2 separate regions of the Homo sapiens genome follow, and region 1 is linked to region 2. A link means that fine-mapping ties the variant in region 2 to the expression of a gene that starts in the linked region. Tissue or cell type: whole blood. Region 2 holds a variant in brackets; the other region holds the start of a gene. All regions are shown on one strand. Distances are between the middles of the regions.

Region 1 (11,040 bases), 52 kb after region 2:
CAGTTATTTTCTCACAGCCTGGGAAGTTCAAGATCAAGGTACCAGCAGATTCGGTGTCTGGTGAGAGCTCTTTTCCTAGTTTGCAGATGGCCCCCTTCTCCCAGCGTGCTCACACACCTTTCCTTGTGGCCGCACTTGTGGAGAGAGGAAGAGGGAAGAAGAGAGGAAGGGGGGTAGTGGGAGAGAGAGGGAAAGAGGGAGAGAAGGAGGAAGAGGGAGGGGGGAGAGGAAGAGGGAGGGGGGAGAGAAAGAGGGATTTCTTCTTTTTCTAAGGGCATCCCATCATGAAGGTCCCACTCTCATAATCTCATCCAAACCTAATTACCTCCCAAAGGGATCTCCAATTAGCATCACATTGGGGATCAGGACTTCGACATATGAATTTTGCGGTTGGGAGACACAAACATTCAGTCCATAACTGCAGCACACTAAGGGAATTCATAACTTTAGAGAAATACTTCTAGAATTTCAGAGCTTGAAGGTCACGTCATGCAATCATGCTTATATTCTACACAAAGCTGTCGCCCAGCCATTTCCTAAACCTCTCCCCCCATCAATGAAATGTGCAGCACTTCTAGAGGCATCTGAGAGTAGATGTGTTAGAAATGAAGGGCCTCAAGGCACTGTCTCCCAGCAGCTTGCACAAGGTGACACCCATAGGGTACCCAAGCCACACAGATCACACTCATCCTTCTTCCACAGTACACCATTCTGCACTCTGAACACAGATTCTTCCTCATCACAAAAATAACATAAAAAAGAATCTGAGGCACACGCAATATAACCTGAGCTTATAAATCAAGTGGGACAACTTACCTATCATGACGATGTGCATCCTTTACTGCTATCATCAGAGGCAGGTGTCTGGGAGGTGGCCAGGACAGGCCTGACCCAGGACAGCACTTGTATCATTAAATGGCACTCAGAGGGCGCACTTCCAAGCAACTGGGACCCTTATCCAGAACACTCCGTCCATTCCCTCAGCACAGCCACTCTGGGAGAGTTCCCTAGTGTGCTCTGGCACTTCCTTCACTAAATTCCTATGGAGCACTTGTTGAGGGCAAGACATGGTAGAAGACAAGAGGAAGGAAAAATGAGGGCTGGTGAAACCACTGATTCTCCCTTCTCTGGCTCCCACCACACAGCCTTTCTAGCCCAAACTCACAATTAAACTGTCTTTTGCTGTGTGTCACTTATTTTCCCCCTACCCAGCTGAATCTCAGAGGAGGCACACCTGCAGTATTTTAGAAAGGCTGACTAGAAGTATCAGGCCTAACCAGACAGGTGCACATTTTAGTTCTTACATTCAATCCTTAGTATCTCACTGTCCAAAAGCCTTCAAAATGCTCCCAGGCACAACTCAGAAGAGTCTCCTTGCCACTCCCTCAGGAGGGTTTCTGCTTGTAATTCTCACTATCACAGGGCACATCTGGACCAATGAGTGGCTGCCGCAAAGACTACCAAAGTTGCCTCCACCTTGACCATGGCACCAGCCTTGCCATGCCCCTCCAGACCACATCACTTCTGCAGTGACCCTCAACCTGTGATTGTGGGCAGCCAGACCAAGATCTGGTGAATGAGCAAGGCAGAGTCCCTTCTGCTCTCTGTCCCCAACACAGTCCCCACCAGCCCAGGTAGCCCCACACCAGTGCCTACCATGCAGGACCTGCGTGAACTGCTGTGGGAGGGAAGGGGCCAGAACCTCTGAGGAGTGGACGCTTCACCTGCAGCCACCATGCTGGCACCCAGCAGGGCTTGATAAAGATCAGCCTGCTGCTATGCCCATGGGTCTCTGTGGCCCAGGCAGGCTCAGTCCCTCTTTTCTGAGAGGAGCCCAGTGGGCTGAACTACTAAGAGAAAAGGCCAAAGACCAAACGGAAGCCTTTAATATGAAGCCAAGTATTTTATCATATGAGGACATTCCCTCTCTCTAACCTACAACACTCCCACCCCCACAGAGAACCTGCTCTTAAATCTAAAGCACAATCCATGCACATTTCTTGATTTAATAGATTTTCTTTAAAGTAAAAAATCATTTATTTAAAGGAAAAATCGCCACAAAGTTTCAACTTGAACCCTATTTTATCAAACAACAGTTGACAGAAAATTTAATTTTTGGAAAGTAACTGGAAAATATAATTTATTTTACGCTTGAGGGGATTTTATATCAAAAGAGATGAATTCTTATATATACTAGTTTATCATACAGGTGGAAAAAGGAAAAACATGTAATTACAGCTGATTTTCTCGTTTCTAATTTTATACACACACACACCACCCCCCCAACACAAACAGGAAAACAATGGGATTTGCTATGCCTTCTTTCATGTGGAGCCCCTGGACCCTTACTTTGGCTCCCACCTCTCCATGTGACGGTGCCACTAAAGCTCCAGCAGCCACATGTTGTCTCACACGTCTCAGCTTCAGCCAACACTGCTCCACACACTTGGAATCCTGCCTCAGGGGCCAACTCTGCCCTGAAACTCTCACTGTTCATGAGTCAGAAGAAACCCCTCCTTCTGCCTTTCCACAGCATCAGGCTTTAGTACACACTTCTGACACTGCCCAGGTTCCATGAATCCTGCATTAGGAGGGTTATGCGTTCAACTTCTCTACTAGACCGTGCTTCCAGAGGAAAGATTCTTATGTCCTACGTGTGTCTGACACCCCATTGCCAAGGTACAGCATCATGCACATAACAATCAATTAGCAAGGTCTGATGATGCCAAAAGCTATCACCTTTAATTCACAACAAATGTTTATAGAGTAGTTTCAATCTCCATGCAAAACATGCATAGACAGGTTATAAAGCTCTGTGTTAAGTTCAACAAAAGAGTATTCCAAGCACCAGAGAGGGAAGCAGTAATTATCAACAGAGGAAGGATGAAGCCATGTTTTAAGTCTGCAGGCCTTATCTCAGTGTCTTCCCGGGGCCTGAGTTCACTGGCCAATATGGTGGGCAAAGTGCCAGCTCCATTTCAATTACTTCATTCTCCCTTTATTGCTGTTCTTTTTTTTGGTTTGTTTTTGGCTGAGTGCATACTACTAACTACACAAAATTAAATGCTGCATGACATGATCCCTCCCACTGTACCAACTCCATGTATTAATCTATGTACCTCTCCCCTCTTCTCAAAAGCCCTTCTTCTGGTTTTATCTAAATGTATACCTAATCTAATAGGTCTTCCCTGGTCCTGTTAGCTTCATCCCACATGTCTGTCCTCCCCTGGAACTCCTGAAAACACTTCAGAAAACATGGGAGTCTGCTTGACAGCTCCTCACCCAAGTGCCTGCCAACCTTCACCAGCCTGGAGCTCATAGCTCAACACCTGGCTGGGTGCTGAATTACACACAGCTGAATGACTTACCTGCTAACAGATACCTTCTAGTGCCCAACTGCATAGTAAACTGCCACAGGGCAGGGAGAGGGCAGGGCAAGAACAAGGTCTCAAAATCCTTTCCCATCTCCCTCAGCACACAACAGTGCTATGCACACAGCATGAGCTCAAACTCTTGCTAGTTAAAACCACTCCCAATACCCCAAAAATACCTCTCAGACAGCCCACCAATTTAGACGTATCTAAGGCATTACAGGTACAGGTGCCTTAGGAGTCCCTCTAGTACATGTGCTAGAGGTGGAGATTGGTCACAGAGGGTGACTAACTCCTTCCTCCTGCCTTTCTGTCCCAACCAGGTACCCAAGACTTGCACCTCCAAGACAGGGATCATGCCTCTTTTACTCCCGGGTCCTTGGAGGTCAGCACCGAGTTCAGCACACAGCCAGTACTGAAGGAGGAATTGACCAAAGGGAGAGATTATCTCCAGGACTCATGCTACTTGGTGGTTTTGCTTTCAGCTGGAAGCCTCAATCCACTGTCAAATGGAAACTTAAAGAACATCCCGATGACTATGCCTGCGCAAAGAGCAGGAAAACTAAAAACTATTTTCCACAATGAATTTGGCAACTTCCTGCCAAGCTGAACAACTTAGTGCTGCAGATTGCAAAATCACACTCATAGTCATTCTTTCCTAATCAACTATTCCCTCAACTTCACAATTCCCATCACCACCAACACCACACTCCACTCACCCAGACATACAACCTCCGCAGCACGTTTGACCAGTACTGCCGTTCATGGCCTATTAAATACTAGGTACTCAAGTGCTGCTTATTTACTCCTTGATCGCACAGCAATCACCCACCCATTTTCTTCCACTCTTCACACCCTCTGTGCACAAGACCTCAGCCGATGCCTTGCTCTCTGGCACCCAGCCCTCCAGGCCCCATCCTCTCACCTTCTTCCCAGACCCTAAATGCCACCATCATTCAACCAGTCTGTCCTCTGCTCAAACAATAACTTCACAGTTCTGAAACCATCAGCCTACACTCTTCTGTTCCAGGCTGACCCAGGCCCATATTCACTCTCAGACTCCAGGAACTCTGACTTATCCTCCTGCCTTGGCTAGGAGAGTCACTGTGTCTCTCTTTCCAGGAACATATAACATTCTCTGCCATCTCAAAACCTTAACAAAGGTCTTACTCCTTCTTGTCCAAATCCCACCCACCCTCTGACAAAAGTTTTCCCAAAGTCCAGCCGCACTGGGTCCTCTCTCTTCCCCTGCCACAGAACTGTATTTAACCCTCCTGCGCTACCTTCCTGTTGGTTCATAAACACTCTCTCCTGTGTGGAGAGTCAGAACAGCTGATGAGGAAGGTAAGGCACGTAGCCACGTGATCCTGCCCAAACCACCAGACTTTCCAATCTCACACAACTGTTATGAAGCTCAAATGATAATTTACAGGAAGGGGACTTGTTCATCTCACATTTGTAAGACCGTCCAAGTTGAGGATCCCTCTAATGCCTGCCAAGTGCAGATATTTCCTATCATTCACAACCCTAGAGAGCTAAGATCTCAGCAAATACCAATTATATGTAAGACACTGAAAGAACACACTTCTCATGGAGCACCGGTCTTCACATCCTCCATGTAGCCACTCAGGAACTTCTCTGGTGTAAAATTTTAGGCGGCTGGACAAATATGTAGGAGACAGGGGTGAAAAACGGGGACACAGCTATTCTTGGCAAATCTGGTGGCAAGGTGCCAGTTCTAAGGGTGGAACATAAACTATAAGCCACAGTCCGATCAGAGGGGCATGAGGAACAAAAGAACTGAGGAGTAGGGATGCGAGCAGAGTAGACCAGGGTACCAATGAAACACCTGGGCAAAGAACGCTTTGGACCATAAAACTGGGGCCACTGCCCTTCCTGACGCTCACGACCATCACAGCTGGGCGTACCCAGACTCGGGCCTGTGAGCCGTAAAATCGCAGCTCACCGGGCCAGACCGGGGCGGCCACTCCCCTCCGTCCTGGGCGAGGCTTACCAATCGAGATCTCCTGCGCGAAGGCCAGCGAGATGAGCAGCAGGGGCAGCCCCACCGCAATGCACGTGACCATCTTGTCCACAGCCAGCTCCAGTCGCAGCCCCTTGAACTTGGGCTCCGTGGGCTCCTTCAGCAAGAAATCCGAGAACACGTACTCCGTGGCCAGTTGAGCGATGGCCATGGCTGCGGCGCGCCAGGCTCGACCAGGAGGTCCGGGTACAGCCGGCGTCGGGAAAGCTGCGCGGCGCCTTCACCCAGTCACCGGCCGGGCGCGCGGCTTTCGCTTTCCCTTTGCCTGCTCCCGCATCCCGCCTGCCTTTGTGTCTCGGTGCCTCAGGCTCCCAGCGACTCCGCTGGGCTCTCGCGCTCGCTGCCTCCGCCGCCGGCGGGGCGGGGCGGGGCGGGAACCCGAGAGCTCCGCTTCCTGCGGTTCCACCCCGCACGCCCGTGCAAGTCCCCGGGCCGCGCGCGGCACTCGGATTCGCGCCTCTCCCGCGCACCCCCAGGCGCGGGAACCACGCGCGGAACAAAGCGCTTCCCTCTGGCCCTGCCCCTCCGCGCCGCCCTGGCTGCCGAAGCGGCCGCCGGGATAGCCCTGCGCTCACAGCCAGCTGCGCCGCGCTCTTCCGGAACCATGCGGGGAAACCAAGTACCCAGGGGCGTGGAGCTTCCGGAAGACGCGGTGACGCGGGGCGGGGTGGGCGCGGCTGCATTCCGCGCCCCTCGGGCCACTCTCTGACAAAGGGATTTTCCCACTGAGCGGCACCTTTGGAAATTCTCCCGTCCCTCCCTGCCGGATTCTCCTCACGTCCTGGCACCCGGGAGTTTTAAAATCATTTCTGCAAGCGACTCTTTCTGTGGATGGGATGGCCCCCTTTACGCCCCACCCCCAACATTTCCAACACGGTGAAATCGGGTTAGAAGGAGCTGCAAAAGCTTCAAAGAACAGTCAGTGCCATAAAAGGCCAATCGAGCGGTGTAGACCGACGGTGCCTTGCAGAGGGAGCGCTGGACCCTTCCAGGAGCTCCGCGTGAGAGGGTGGCGCGGAAACGGTAGTGAGTGTGGAGTTTCGAGGCCTGAGTAGCGCTGCTGGTCCCGTTTCTCTTTCCTCTGCCATCCCAATCAGAGCCTTGTTCCGGGAGCCAGCAGAGAGAGGGGGGCCTGCAGGTAGGTGGGTGTTGGGGCTGCAGAGAGCTGCTTCTGAACAGCTCATAGGAAGTGGATGATGGAAAGACAGGAGGAAATACTCTGACCAGTGTCCACGGAAATTAAGGCTGTTGAAGTAGAAATAATTTGATTTATTGGAAGCTAAATGTGAGGATCCACCCAAGAAGACTTACCAGCAAAGTTGGGCATGTTTCAAAATTTGTTACACGTTGGAAGGGTTTTAGAAGAAAGTTTAGGAAAAGGGAGGAGGACCCCTTATATCAGAGGTGGGATTTTTTTCATCGGAGGGTATGGTACACAGGTTACAGTCACTGGCTGCAGATGACAACATACAGGCTAAAATGTTTTGTGCACAAGAAAATCAAAGTTTATATGATTCAGAAACAAGTCAGTGTTCTTTTCAATGTCAGTATTTTACATACTAATCAGTACATCAGCAGTTTGAGGAACTGACAAAAGGATTTGAAGGACTCACAGTAAGATTTTTTACTCAGGGACAGGATCTAAGCCATGAATCATAAGACCTTTCTTAGATGGCTTAGTTTGGAAGCCCTGTCAAATGTGACATGTAGGTTATCACCAGTAACATTTGAAGCAGGCAGGACCTGCAAACATGAGGGCTCCTTGGGGCAGGGCTTGGCTCCCTTCTCTGTGGGTCCACAGATACAAGCCTCAACTCCCACATGTACCTCTCCACCCCAGCCTGGCCGCTAAACACACATCCAAGAGCGTATACAGCTCTCTCCGCGTAGATGGCTCATAGGGCTTCAAACTCATAACGGCCAGGACTTCAGTCTTCATCTTCCCCTTAAACCTGAACTCCATCTTCCCCATCTTACTAAATGTACCACCAGCCACCTGTGCACCCAAGTCGGAATCCTGGAGCACCATCTTCAACACTCCATTTCTCACAGCTGCCATAACCAATTTTCAAATTCTCTTGCTTCTCTCTCCTAAATATAGCAAATCTGACACCCCTCCACCTGCACTGCCAATACCCAATTCAACTCACCATCCTGTCTCCTAACCACATATAGGAAATATGTGAGACAGGGTCCCCCTCCATTCTCCTCTACAGCTGCCAGGATGAGCTTTTCAAAACTCCAGTCGGATCATCTTTTCTACTTAAAGTGTACATTGTTTTTAGCATAAAATACAAATTTCTTAGCATGGCCTCTGCCTACCTCACCACCAGCTTCACTGCTTTCCTTTCAGTTCTTCAAGTTAGCTAAGCCCTTGGCCTCCTCCAGGCCTTCCCACCCAAAACACTCCCCACAGTGGCCTCTTTGCCTGGCCCACCTTTATTCACCCTTCTGGCCTCAGCTTGATGTCACTTCCCTGGGAAAGCCTTCCCTAAGTAGACAGACTAGATTAGGTCCCTTTGTGAAATTCTCCCATAATACTAGCCACACTAGTTACTAGCTATTAGTCTTGGGGAGTTCTTTGACTCTCCTGTGTCTCAGTTTTCTCATCTGTAAAAAGGTTGTACCTCTTAGGACTGTGATAAGGACCAAATGAGTTAACACGTGGGTAGTGCCCAGTGCCTGGCACCTTGTGAATCTAGGTACATTTCATCTGTCATTGTTCTCTATTTTTCCTTCTTAAAAATAGTCACCATTGCAACTCAACAAATATTTATTCATTTATTTAGTGTTTGCCACCACTTTATGTGATCGGCTTCTTGAGGGTAGGCCCATGCCCATGTGTACCACTTTTATCCTCAACACTTAGCACAAATGCCTCACACAGAGTTGATGTTTTAATTCATATTATTAAATAAATGTCTGAAGGAATCTGAACACTTTTTAAAACTGGCCCAGTTCACACTCATTTATCCATACATTCCAGGCATATATTAGAGGCTGGTGATGGGCCAGTTCTGGGCTCAGTGGATGGGGAAGCAGAAATGAAGTGAATGGATTCCATTTCCTCAAAGACCTTATGGCTTAGCAAGAGAAATAAGGCATGCACACAATTAACTATAATGCAAGGTAGAAAGAGTGATTATTGTGAAAAGTGGGGTATACCAAGGGAGGTGCAGAGAATAAGTAGGGCCTGGGAGAATGTGTCAGTTGGGACATTCAGAGCTGGGACAGGGGCTTTCTGGGAGTCAGGAAATCATGGGTGCCATTTCCCTTCTTTCCTTGCCAAAAGCTAATCATCCGATAGGCTCAAATGGCCCCTTTTTAGGCTCAAATGCCCCCTTTTTAGGAAGCCTTCCAGGATCCTCCAGTTGTAATGAATCCTTCCCTCCCTTGTTACTCTCTCCTCTGGCCTAGAAGTTAGTTCATTTTGCCTCCTGTGATGGGATGATGGATTGTGTATCTCTTTTTTCATTACATAGCAAGTTCCTCTGAGGATCTGGAGTGAATCTCAGCAGTTGCATAAATTGCCCTCAGTTTTGGCAATTTTTTACATTCCATATGATGTTATCCTACTTTTAATGAATTTAAAATAGAAGCCAGATGGAGAACTTGTTGGAAAATAGTGTGTCCGGAATTGATTCCTTCTGGTGGGTTCTTGGTCTCACTGACTTCAAGAATGAAGCCACGGGCCCTCGTGTTGAGTGTTACTGTTCTTAAAGGTAGTGTGGACCCAAAGAGTGAGCAGCAGCAAGATTTATTGTGAAGAACAAAAGAACAAAGCTTCCACAGCATGGAAGGGAAGCTGAGCAGCTTGCCGCTCTGGTGGCCAGCTTGTATTCACTTATTTGGCCCCGCCCACATCTTGCTGATTGGTCCATTTTACAGAGCGCTGATTGGTCCATTTCACAGAGTGATAATTGGTGCATTTACAAAACTTTAGCTACACACAGAGCACCGATTGGTGCATTTTTACAGAGTGCTGATTGGTGCATTTACAAACCTTTAGGTAGACACAGAGCGCTGGTTGCTGTGTTTTTACAGAGTACTGATTGGTGCGTTTACAAACCTTTAGCTAGACACAGAGCACTGATTGGTGTGTTTACAATCCTCTAGCTAGACAGAAAATTTCTCCAAGTCCCCATCTGACCCAGAAGCCCAGCTGGCTTCACCTCTCAATCCCCCCTCTAAACAGGACACCCCAACTGCTGTTGGGAATTGGGTGATGACTGCTCTAGCTACTTCCTGCTGGATAGGAGCAAAGAAGGGGCCCTGCAGTTGTAGTATCCTCCAGAGGGGAACTCTTTAGGCCAGTGAAAGGACCAGCGGGTCGGTCCAGGGGTCCTCGGTAGAAGTTGTTAGTTGAGCTCATTTGGGGTTCCATTGGTAAGACCATCTGTAGCTTGATGGCCTCGATCCTAGAGGAAACAAATTTAACAAGGAGTTTAAAAATACAGGGCCCGAAGGCAAGTAATAGTAAGATGGCTGCCATGGGACCTAGAAAGGGGAGAAGCCATGTTGCCCAACTCCAGAGGTTGGTATAAGAGTTTGAAAGGCATTGTCTGATTTTGGAAGCCTTTTCCTGTAAACGCCAGGTGGCATATCATACTATCCCTGAATGGTTAGTGTGAAAACAACACTCTTCCCCTAAGAAGGTGCACAGTCCTCCTTTCTCAGCAGTGAGGAGGTCTAGGCCTCGGCCGTTTTGGAGAGTCGCTGCTGCCAAAGAGTCTATTTGGGATTGTAGAATAAGGATAGATTTCGTTATCTCTTGCAAACTGTCTGAGAAATCCTTTGAGAGTGTGTGGTAGTAGGATAATGAAGTAGATAAACTGACTATTCCGGTTCCTGTAGCAGTAGCCATTCCTAACCCCATAAGTAGGGGTATTAGTTGTATGGCTCTGCACTAACAGACTTGAGCTTTGAGGGGTACTGATAGGGTCTGATTTCCTGGGGAAATGTTAATGTCGGGACTTAGAAATACTAAGGTGCAGGTGCCTTCCAGTTAGTGGGGTGGCAGATATAGTTCAACATTCCACATAAGAAGAATATACCTTGGCTGGGTAGACAGAACTGGTTGTGTATGTTATAAAGGTGTGTGAGTTTATTGTTTTCATTTTCCTATACTCCTAGAATACTTGCCAAGATAGCTGCTATGAGTGGCTGGAAAGGGGTGTTGGGAGCAAACTGAGTGGCTCCCTGTGTTCTATTTTCCCATTGGAGAAAAAACCATTTTGTATCTACTAGGAACCATTCGAGAGAGCGATTGAAAGAGGGGATGAGATGGCATTCACTAGTGGTGGGGATACTGCTGCAGGGGGTCCAGGGGTGAATGGTCATGCAGAGAGTATGTTTGCCATTACAAAACCTGGACTGTTTGTTAAGCAGGGAGGAGGTGATGATTTTGGGGGCCCCTGAGACGTGGACAAGCCGTCTGAATGGAGCTGTTTGAGTGACTTGGAAGTTACTATGATCAGTTGGGGCTTGAAGTTGTATGGTGTAATTACACTGATGTGGTAGTAGGTGCCCCAGGAGCAGACCTGATAACAGGTTGCATTGGATGCATAAAGGGGCTTGGAAAGTTAAGATGGTATTTGTAGTTACAGGGCTGTGTATGGGCTTTTC
Region 2 (9,391 bases):
AATTCTGCCAACAACCTGAGGCAGCTTTGAAGCAGCTCTTTCCCCAGTTGACCTTCCAGATGAGAATACAACCTTCCACAACTAGGCTGTAGCACTGTGAATCCCTGAGCACAGGACCTAGCTGAGCTGTGTCCAGATTCCTGACCCAGGAAACTGCAAGATGATATATGTGTATTGCTTTAAGCTGCTAAGTTTGCATTAATTTGTTATGGAGCAATAGAAAACTAATACAACATCCAAGGGTCCTGGGGTTGCCACCCTGGGAATAGCTGGTGAGCAAGATAGTCAAAGCTAGCACTTAGAGAGAATTTACTATATTTGTGATATGCCAGGAATGGCACTAAAATTTCACATGGCTCTGATTACCCACAATAGTAAGCTGTACTAACCATTGTACAAAGGAGTCCTCCTCTTGAGAGAGGTGAGCAGGAGAACCCATGTTTAGTAGCACATGGTTGCTGATCTTTTTTTCCCAAGCCCAGGCAAACAATCCTCAATCAGAAAGCAAGTGATTTGTGCTTTAGAAATTCCAGAATCTGTGGGCCCTTAATCAAGGACTCTCTTTCTTTAGTCACTGCCAGCTGGATTTTAGCAAGCAGCATGAAGCCTATGGAATTTTATGTTTCCAGCAGACAGCAATGAGCCTCAAGACATTTTGGAATGCATCTCCCATTACATCTTCCATGAAATGACTCTCCCTAAAGGGAAGGCAAGAAATATTAAGACATTTTTCATTACTTACTCAGTTTTATTTAGGTGGACACAACAGTGAAGAACTCAAACATGGTTTGACCTTTATCTACAGACACAGCAGCCTGGATTTTCAGCCTTTCATTCCTTTTAAATGAAAGTCAGCAGGCTCAAAATGCAGAGCTTGGCTAAGTCACTTCTGTGGAAATATGAAATATAGTAGTGATAACCACCAAGGGCTTTCAAATTCTTGTGTTCTTCTAAGGATCCTTTCCTAACACCATGATTTGTTCTCATCTTTGTGGAAATGAAACCAAGATGGTCTTAATTTGTAAAGTCCTTTTTCCTCTGTTGGCAGTCTTCTTACAAAGGATGCAGCAAAAAGAACACATTTTTCTTTCAAAGTTTTGAAGAAATATAGTCATTAAAAAGAATTTAAATTATGCCTAAAGCACCACTTTACAGAATACCATTAAATTGTAATTACGTGCTTTTAAAAAGCCAACTTGTTAAAGAGGAGCTGATGGTTTCAGTTTTTGTAGGGAACACTTGTAACACTGCAGAATTCTACAAGGGCTTTCTCCTCTGGTGGGCAGGGAAAAAACCACTCAAGTCATGAGAAACTTTTATAGCTTTCAGGAACTTGAAGAACAACTGCTGATTAAATTTCATGCTTTAGTGACGAAGTATTTTTACAGCTAAAAAAGGAACCCAGAAACATAATACATTTCATTTAAAGCAGGCAGAAAAACCAACCACAAATTAATATCTATTGTATTCCACATGGCACTATATAATCGTTGTCAATCGTTTTAAATGGTTTCACTTTATTTGTGAAAAATAAAGCCAAAATGCCAACAACTTCCAAGAAGGAACCATTTCATCATCTCCATCCCCTCAGATAAAACCTCAATTACTGGTAATTGTACATTTCCATCAATATCCCTTTTAAAGAGGTTTATTCTGAGGAATTACTGAGACCAGGAGCTTTAAAAGCTTCAATTTCCCTAATCACTGAGAGGCAATCTTGAACTTCTATTGAACTTGGAAAGCGGTCAAGACTCACTCCATAATAAGAAGTTAAGGACTGTCACTACTTAAGGTGGAAACCTATTCATTTGCAGAAATAGTCCTCTTTCTACCAAGAGGCTAATGAGCCTCCCCTCCCCTTCCCCTCTCTAAAATAAAATCAGTTTGCCTTCTAAAATCAAATAACAGTTGCCAACAAATTAGGATTTATCCTAAGAGTTTGTCCATTCATTTCAACAAACATTTGAAGAATGCCTCATCTGGGCCAGTCTCTGTTTTAAGCACTTGCGATATAGCAGTGCATAAAAATTCTCACCCTTACAAACCTTTGATTGACCCAGGACTGACAGTAAGCAAAACAAACCAAACACGAGCACATTTTAAAAAGGTGTCTAAAAACCTGCCTGATAGCTGAGCTAATTCTCATAGGCACAAACTGCCCTGACCTGAGCTCACTCTTGGACAAGCAGTTCCCACAAATGAAACTAAACATGCAAACCAGACCCACTGTACAGGTGGAAGTTTCCAGCTTTCTCACAGTACAAGTTTAAGGTAGGACGCAGCATTTTATAGTGTTACGTCCTTCCTCCCCACATTCCTGTGAGGCGGAACAAGAACAATTACTTGACCCTGGAGGAAGACGACGCCTTGTGGTCAGGGAGAGAACAGCAGTTCATGCTGGCTGCCTCGTCTTTCCAGGCCTGCTGCTGCCCAGGCTTCTACTGACCTTGTTAGGTCTGATTCTAGAAAATGAAGGCAGGTACTCAAAAGGTACAGTTCACCCAGAAGAATGTAAATGTGACTGAGCTAAGCAAACGTACAGCTGAGTCTTAGTGTTGGGGGAAGTAGCTTTCATGAAGGCAAAGGGAGCCCCATTCTCGGCCGTATGGCTTGCTCTTCAGCCGTTGGAGTGCAGCTTTTTCAGAGGCGTGGACTAAAATGACCTCCTAAGGTGCACTGAAAATGTTGGCTGTAGATCTGAGGAGAGGGTCCATAGCTATAAAAATATTTGCAAGGGGATTGTAACCCCTCGAAGTTTAAGAACCTCTATGTTGGAAGTCTCTGCCTATCCCTTTGTAAAAGTGAAGATGTGTTGGAACGCTGCTTTCACAGTACTCTATGTCCCTCCCAGTTGCAACAATGTTGTTTCCAGCCTGGTTCAGCAGCTTGCTGGTGGTTTACTAGGCAGACATGAGCCAGAAACAAAATCAGCAACCCTGGAGTGGTCATTTAGGATCAGTTTTGTCTCCTTTTACAAAGCAATGAGTGCTTTATAAAAGCATTTCTCCTCAGGAAACTGGCTCCTCAAAAGTCGTTCTCCAAGCCAGCAGCTCACAGTAGATGGATGAGTTTACCTGTCCTAATAATACTTTTTATTATAATACTTTTATTACTGATACTTTATTATAATACTTTTATTACTGATACTGATACCTAGTAATACTTTTATTAGATGAAATGTATCCCCAGGCCTCCACATCAGCCTTCTGGGGCCCTGACAGTTGTTTACCAGTAGCTCCACAACCTCCACAGGCTTGTTCTCTCATCCCTGTGAGGGAAGGTTCAAAAGGCAACTGGATTCCTTACTATTCAAAATCACTGTGACTATTTCACACAAACTTCAACCTAGAGGATTTGCAGCTAAAGAACCTTAAGGTGGTCATCTGCCTCTGGGAAAAATGATTACTATATTCTCAAAACCAGCAGTTACAGGAACTATAGGAGAGAAAACAAAAACAATGTGCCCTCTCCCAAGAACACAGAGCATTTGCTAGGAGTTTTCTGGCATAGCCTTTACTGTGGCTACGCTTTCTCCTCTTAGGCACCAGCCCATGTTTCTGCTGCCTTTTACTGGACTCTGAAGTCCTCAAGGATGGGACCTGCCTATGCATATCTGCACATCCAACTTGGTACTGGTGCCTGGGACATCACAGACCCTACTGGAGTTCAGAGAGTGGGAATGGCTTGGAGACTTCCTGGTGTCCTAAAATATCAATTTTTACCGTTTCAAAATAGAAATTAAGGATAGTCTACAGAAGATGAAGCTTTTTGTAAAAAAAAAATCATATCCTAGAAAATGTATCTCGTAAATCTTTTTAAATTTTCAAAAGAAACCAGTGTAGAAACTTGTGATGGAACATCTCAGATACGGCAATATAATAATTTTGCAAATTCCATTATTTAGGTTACTGCCATTTCTAAGTCACAGAATAATTCAACAGTAATAAATATCATGTAACAGAATAATTTAACGCACTGATTGCTACTTTGATATTTATCATCAGCTTTCCATTTCAGAAAACATCACAGAAGTACAAATAAAATCTGCTTTTCTGAATATTCCAAAAGGCAGACAGCAGCTTATATAATTTCCGTTCTTCAGAAAACAGTAATTAGATTATGTAAACAACTGTCCGTAAGAGCTAAAAGTAAACTTGGAGGTTCCTGAGGATTACTGAACTTATGCAACATGCTAACTTTCTAAGACTAAAACTGGGAAGTTCCACAGATGTTAAAGATTTTTGTGTGTGTGTGTAAAATGTGAACATAGGATCTATTTACATAGTTGGAATTGGGAACAGTTTTTAACATGTTCTGAATCAGCTTTAAATGTTTATGAAATAAGCTTACATTTGTCTTATCCAACCATTTATAATCTTTATTCT[A/G]TAATTCTCCACCAGTGCTAGAATTTTCTTCCCAAATGGCCTCAATTCGGACACTGAATAAACGATAATGAATTTTTTAAAGCTGTGCTTAAATATAAACAAAATAAACCGCTAAGTTTTTCTGGCTCCAAGCACGCCATATGAAGCATGCCAATGTCACTTATGTGCCCTGATCACATTCAGGCAAAGTGTTCTTCACTTTAAATACTCCTGTGTTCCATTATTGTTTAAGTAAAATCCTATTTCAAATGCCTTTGATAACAGAGAAACCGCCTGTAGACAAACTCTTTGAAAGTGACTGAATTAATGTCTTCTGTGATGTCAGATTTCCCCACTGGGCTCTTTTGGAAGCATTCTTCCTGAATTGAAGTCACTGTGAATATCCTTTAGATTTCATCTTGTTAACTCAGTTTTCAGTCAGAGCAGCACTTGGGCCTGCTGCCCTTCAAGGCACAGTGCAACAAATAGTGGTTACGGGATTTCCATCAGCCAAGGTTGACAACTAACAATGTAAAGAGAGCTCGAGTGTGGGCCAAGGCATCGGACCTTACACCTAACTTAGGACATAGGTCGACCTATGGATTATTAGCCAGTGAATGCTTTTCTTGTCTAACAGTCTTTAAGGGCACATAAGAAACTCACGTTAAATTATACCCTGACATATTATTATTCCATGAAAACAAAACAAATCTTCCAAAGTGCTTGTTTTCCAGTAGCTCTGGGTCTTGTCTCACCACGGGTACAGAAAGGTATTGCTCCGAGGCTCTGACAGGGCTACTGCTCTTGACTAATTGTTCTTGTCTTTCTGCTTTTCATTTGATGAGGACTTACACATAGTTACTTGCTGCAGTTTACTATCTCTCAGGTGCTTCCTATGGGAAGTTCATAAACCATTCTTCCATAACCTTTTGTTGATCACCATTTCCATTAGGGACTCAATAAGACATGCTCAGTATCTCCACCAAGAACCATTTATTGCAAACCAGCTGTGAAACCAACAGGGGTGCTTTAGCCAAATTAAATCCCATGTCGCAGAAGTCACAGATTTACAGCTCAAGGAAAAAAATCATCAGCAAGAAGAATCCAGAAGTCTCTGTCGGGCATTCTTCTCTCCATTATTTGCTTTAGTTTCACTGTCTATGTTCATACCTGTCAAAATTGAAAACAAATATTTATGACAGAAACATAGCAGGAATTACCAATACTAATCAATTTTTCTTCTGCCAAAAATTCCTCTCACAGTCTATACCATGTTTTGCTTCTTGGCCTAACTAAAAGAATCAATAAACTTTTAGTCCCCTTTGAAAGAGAAAGTCAGAGAGTAACAGAGAAGGAGATCAGAGGTAGAAAGGAAAGCCAGTAAGATAAGACAAAAATAAGCAAGAAAGACAAGGAAGATTGCTGAGCAAGAGAGAGTGTGAGACAGACAGAGAAGAGGGAAAAACCAGAAAAAGCACAGAAGTTATTCTTCTTTGGAAATGTAGAGCAGCACCAATTCTTTTCCTCTCTCTCCTTATACTGAGGGGTTCCCACTCCCCCTACCCCGCACCTTGGTATTAAGGTTTTTAATGCTTGGAAATGGTTTAAATGATGGGCAGGGTAAAGACTGTCAATATTCCCACAAGGCTGCTGCAAAGGCTCTCGGTAGACTCCCGTAGCCTCTGCCAAAAGCAAACCCTACCTTGGAGCTCTGCCGTCTGGTTCCCCTGCTCCTCTCTCATCTCTGCAGACATGGGAGTTTTGCCATCAACAACATCCATCTTGATCATGCCAAGGTTTGTCAGGAGTAGCATTGGGTCGATCCCCTGACCACTGCTCTTAATATTCTCCAGTACCTTAAGACACTTGTATGACTTGACCTCACTTATATTTTCCTCCAAGAAGAGATTGTAGAGGCTCAAATCGTTGTACCCTTCAGATTTGAAATGCAGAACATCAAAAGTGGGGAGGATTTCGTACACTTTGAGAACATCTGTCTTCTGTCGGAATGGAACAAACAGCGTGTAGACAACCACGGGAGCCAGCAGGACATAAACCACAAGGTTAATGACACTGAGCAACTGGAAGATGCCCACGGCAATGAGTTTGCACTGAAACTGATCGGGCACGGTGCTGTCGTTTCTCAGGATCCCTGATTTGATGCTGCACACAAACTCGTCTGAGAGTGAGGAGAGGCTGAAGTAATAGCCCAGGTAGATACACGCTAACAGTATAATGATGAGTGTCAGCAGGCGGCAGCTAATGTACTTGATGATTAAATTATTAGAATTTTTCTTTGTCTTCAAGTACTGCTCCACAATTGGGTACTTGAAGTGGCTTTCAGATACCTCCCACAAACTAAAAAATAAAGGAAACAAAAATAACTTAGGCACTCATCAAGACCATCAAATATTAAAGGCAGATACACATTCAACAATGTCACACTAAAAATTTCAAACACCCATACTTCTTTACCTACAACGTCAGTAGTCAAAAATAAAATCCGTTTAAAAGAGGAGGAAGAAAAGGAATAATAAAATGCTTTTCCCCTTAATATTTAACAGAAGGCCTAGTTAATTAAATGAGTTAATATTTGGAAATTTTTAGAGTGATGCCTGGCATCTGGTAAATCCTAAATATGTGTAAGCATACGCCTCTTACAGGCAAGGGGTGGGACAACTCAGGGGGTATGGGCAAAAACTATGGGGTCTAAAGGGCATGGTTCAGTTCCCAGACTCTCACTTACAGCTACAGAAGAGTATTTTTATCCAGAATAAAAGTGGAGGAGGAGGTTAACAAATGCACTAGTAATGTTGCTCTGAGGGTTAAAGGAGATAATGTACTTAAATAACTCAATACGGTGTGTGAGATATATTAAATATTCAAAAAATGATGGCTCTTATTATTATTCCAATTATTCAATAACAAGAACCAAAAGAAGGTTGTGAAAAGGCAAGCCACGACCTACTCATTCCCCATTTCTCTCTCATCCCTTGCTCAGCTGCCTTGAAATCCTCTGTGCGTCTCCATTAAGGAGTTAAATAGATCAAAGCAAGCAAGCTTCATATAGCACCTCAATCTGTTACCCCTACAAGAACTGCATTTTTAAAATGAGATGTAATGTTTCACTCATCAAGGGAATGAGTCTTGACAGAAGGATAAACAAATGGGTAGGATGGGTCGCGGTGAGATTTGGGGAGAGTGGACATCCCGGGATACTACAGGCTGTCACTAGGTGCATGACGTCCCCCTGCTTCCACTCCTGCCCCGCCTCCTAGCAATGAGAACTCTGGGCCCAGACTGGCAGTAGAAGGGCAGAGAATTTGTCCTACAAAACCCGATGAGCTGCCTGCTGGGGCTAAGTTACCTTTGCCCTAAGTTCTCGGTAACACCTGGAACTGAGCAGGCTCCATCTCTCATGTCAAGGTCACGCGCACTCTTTGCAGCCTTAATTGCACGGTTGTAAACTTTGTCAAGTTCTTCCATGATAAACTTCAAGTCTGAGCAAATATGAGGAGCAGCTGCGAAACGCCAGAACAGCGGGGGCAGGTACAGGAGGATCGCAAAGAGCAGCAGGATGTAGGGGAAAAACTGAAAAACAAGAGAACAAATCATGGGCTTAACAAACCCCCCATGCAGTAACCTATGGCGCCAAGTGATGCTCTCATTTTCTCACATCTTGAGACAAATGTGTATTGTGGAAATTGGGCTCATTACCTAATAACTACTTCTTATGGCTAAATTCCCCTGTCCAGGTAATACCTGTCACAGGTAACTACCTATTTTTTTTTCTTCCATAGGTATTAATTTGAAGTAATCAGCAACTGCATGGTGACACATGGTGTGTACGTTCTAATCACAGAAGGAAAATAAAAAAATAAAATTACTCCCGTTCCCTGAACAAAATCCCAGTTAAGAAACCTGCAGCTATCACGAAGGCTTCTGCTGGGTTTTTGTTAACTTTTATGGTTTTAAGAAGCAACTAAGGCATACGGCTCCATTTTTGCCCTACTCTGGAATCTGGGAAAATGCCAAAGAAACATGTAACTTCCCCCAAAACAAATTAGAAAAGCTTCGACTTCAGTGATTCAGTAATCATCCCAATAAGACAGCTGAAATAAGCAGTTGAATTCACAGAATGCAGAATGAATGTGGAACAGACTTTGAAGGCAGTCCAACACCCTCATCGTATAGTTGGATAAACTTGGGCTCAGAGAGGCCATCCACAACGGGCAAGGGAATCAAGAGGAGAGCATCCACATCAGGGTGCAGACACACACCAAACAAGAGGGGATTCACACGTCAGAGAGGGTGAGGAGCACCCCAGTAACCAGGACCACCAGTTGGTCAGAGGTGGCTTAGCCTCAGCAGAAGACTTAGGAAGACCGTAAATTGCAGTCAGTGCAGATCTGAATTGAAGCTCAGCATTGCGGCCTTGGGCAATCATGTCTACTCTGCAGAACTAAGTAGCTGCGACAGTGACCATGTGATCTGCAATGACAAAAAAACTTTATGATCTGGCCCTCTGCAGAAGTTTGCTGACCCTGGTCTAGGCCCTTGATGTCACTTTCGACTATCCTTTTGCGTGATCTTCTAATCAGCAATAAGACATAAGAGTATTGCTTTTTGTTTGCTCTTTGCCTTCTTGGACAAAACTGCTTCTTTTCCTTTCTGTTCCCTAATTAGAACCCTCACTCTGTGCTTACCAAGTGGCTCTCCCTGCCTCTATTCTCTCCTGTACACCATTACTGAGGCTTAACTCTTGGAACCGCCAAGTTCACCCTGCTCAGGTACCTGCAATGGCTCCCGCTGTCCCCAGCATTTAGCCCATCCATCTGGTTAGTTTTCAAAGTCTCTGACCCTCAGTTTCCTTATGTATGAAATGGTCATGGAATAGAGGTGTCATGAAGATTAAAGGAGATAATTGATGGAAAATGCTTAGCAAAGGGCCTGGCATAGAACAGGCACTCAAACACTCCAGGTAACCACAAAAAGATTAGCTAGGTGGACACGTTATGTTCAGTCCT

Evidence for each region. PIP is the estimated chance that this variant, and not a neighbour inherited with it, causes the effect.
Region 1: it holds the start of PANX1, and the variant in region 2 is fine-mapped to the expression of PANX1 in whole blood (TOPMed, PIP 0.99).

Annotation. Positions count from the first base shown.
Region 1 is chr11:94,123,839-94,134,878 of GRCh38, reverse strand. PANX1 (pannexin 1) reads right to left here and starts at 6,038. Exons shown (of 5, transcript NM_015368.4): 1 at 5,386-6,038. The coding sequence starts at 5,566. RefSeq lists enhancers at 1,147-1,646, 5,466-5,725, 6,046-6,105 and a silencer at 5,746-5,815.
Region 2 is chr11:94,176,933-94,186,323 of GRCh38, reverse strand. PANX1 (pannexin 1) reads right to left here. Exons shown (of 5, transcript NM_015368.4): 3 at 7,732-7,955; 4 at 6,067-6,722; 5 at 4,356-5,534. The coding sequence ends at 5,455. Among named protein-coding and RNA genes, the nearest start is that of PANX1, 53 kb to the right of the region's middle. The variant A/G (reference allele first, on the strand shown) is at 4,386.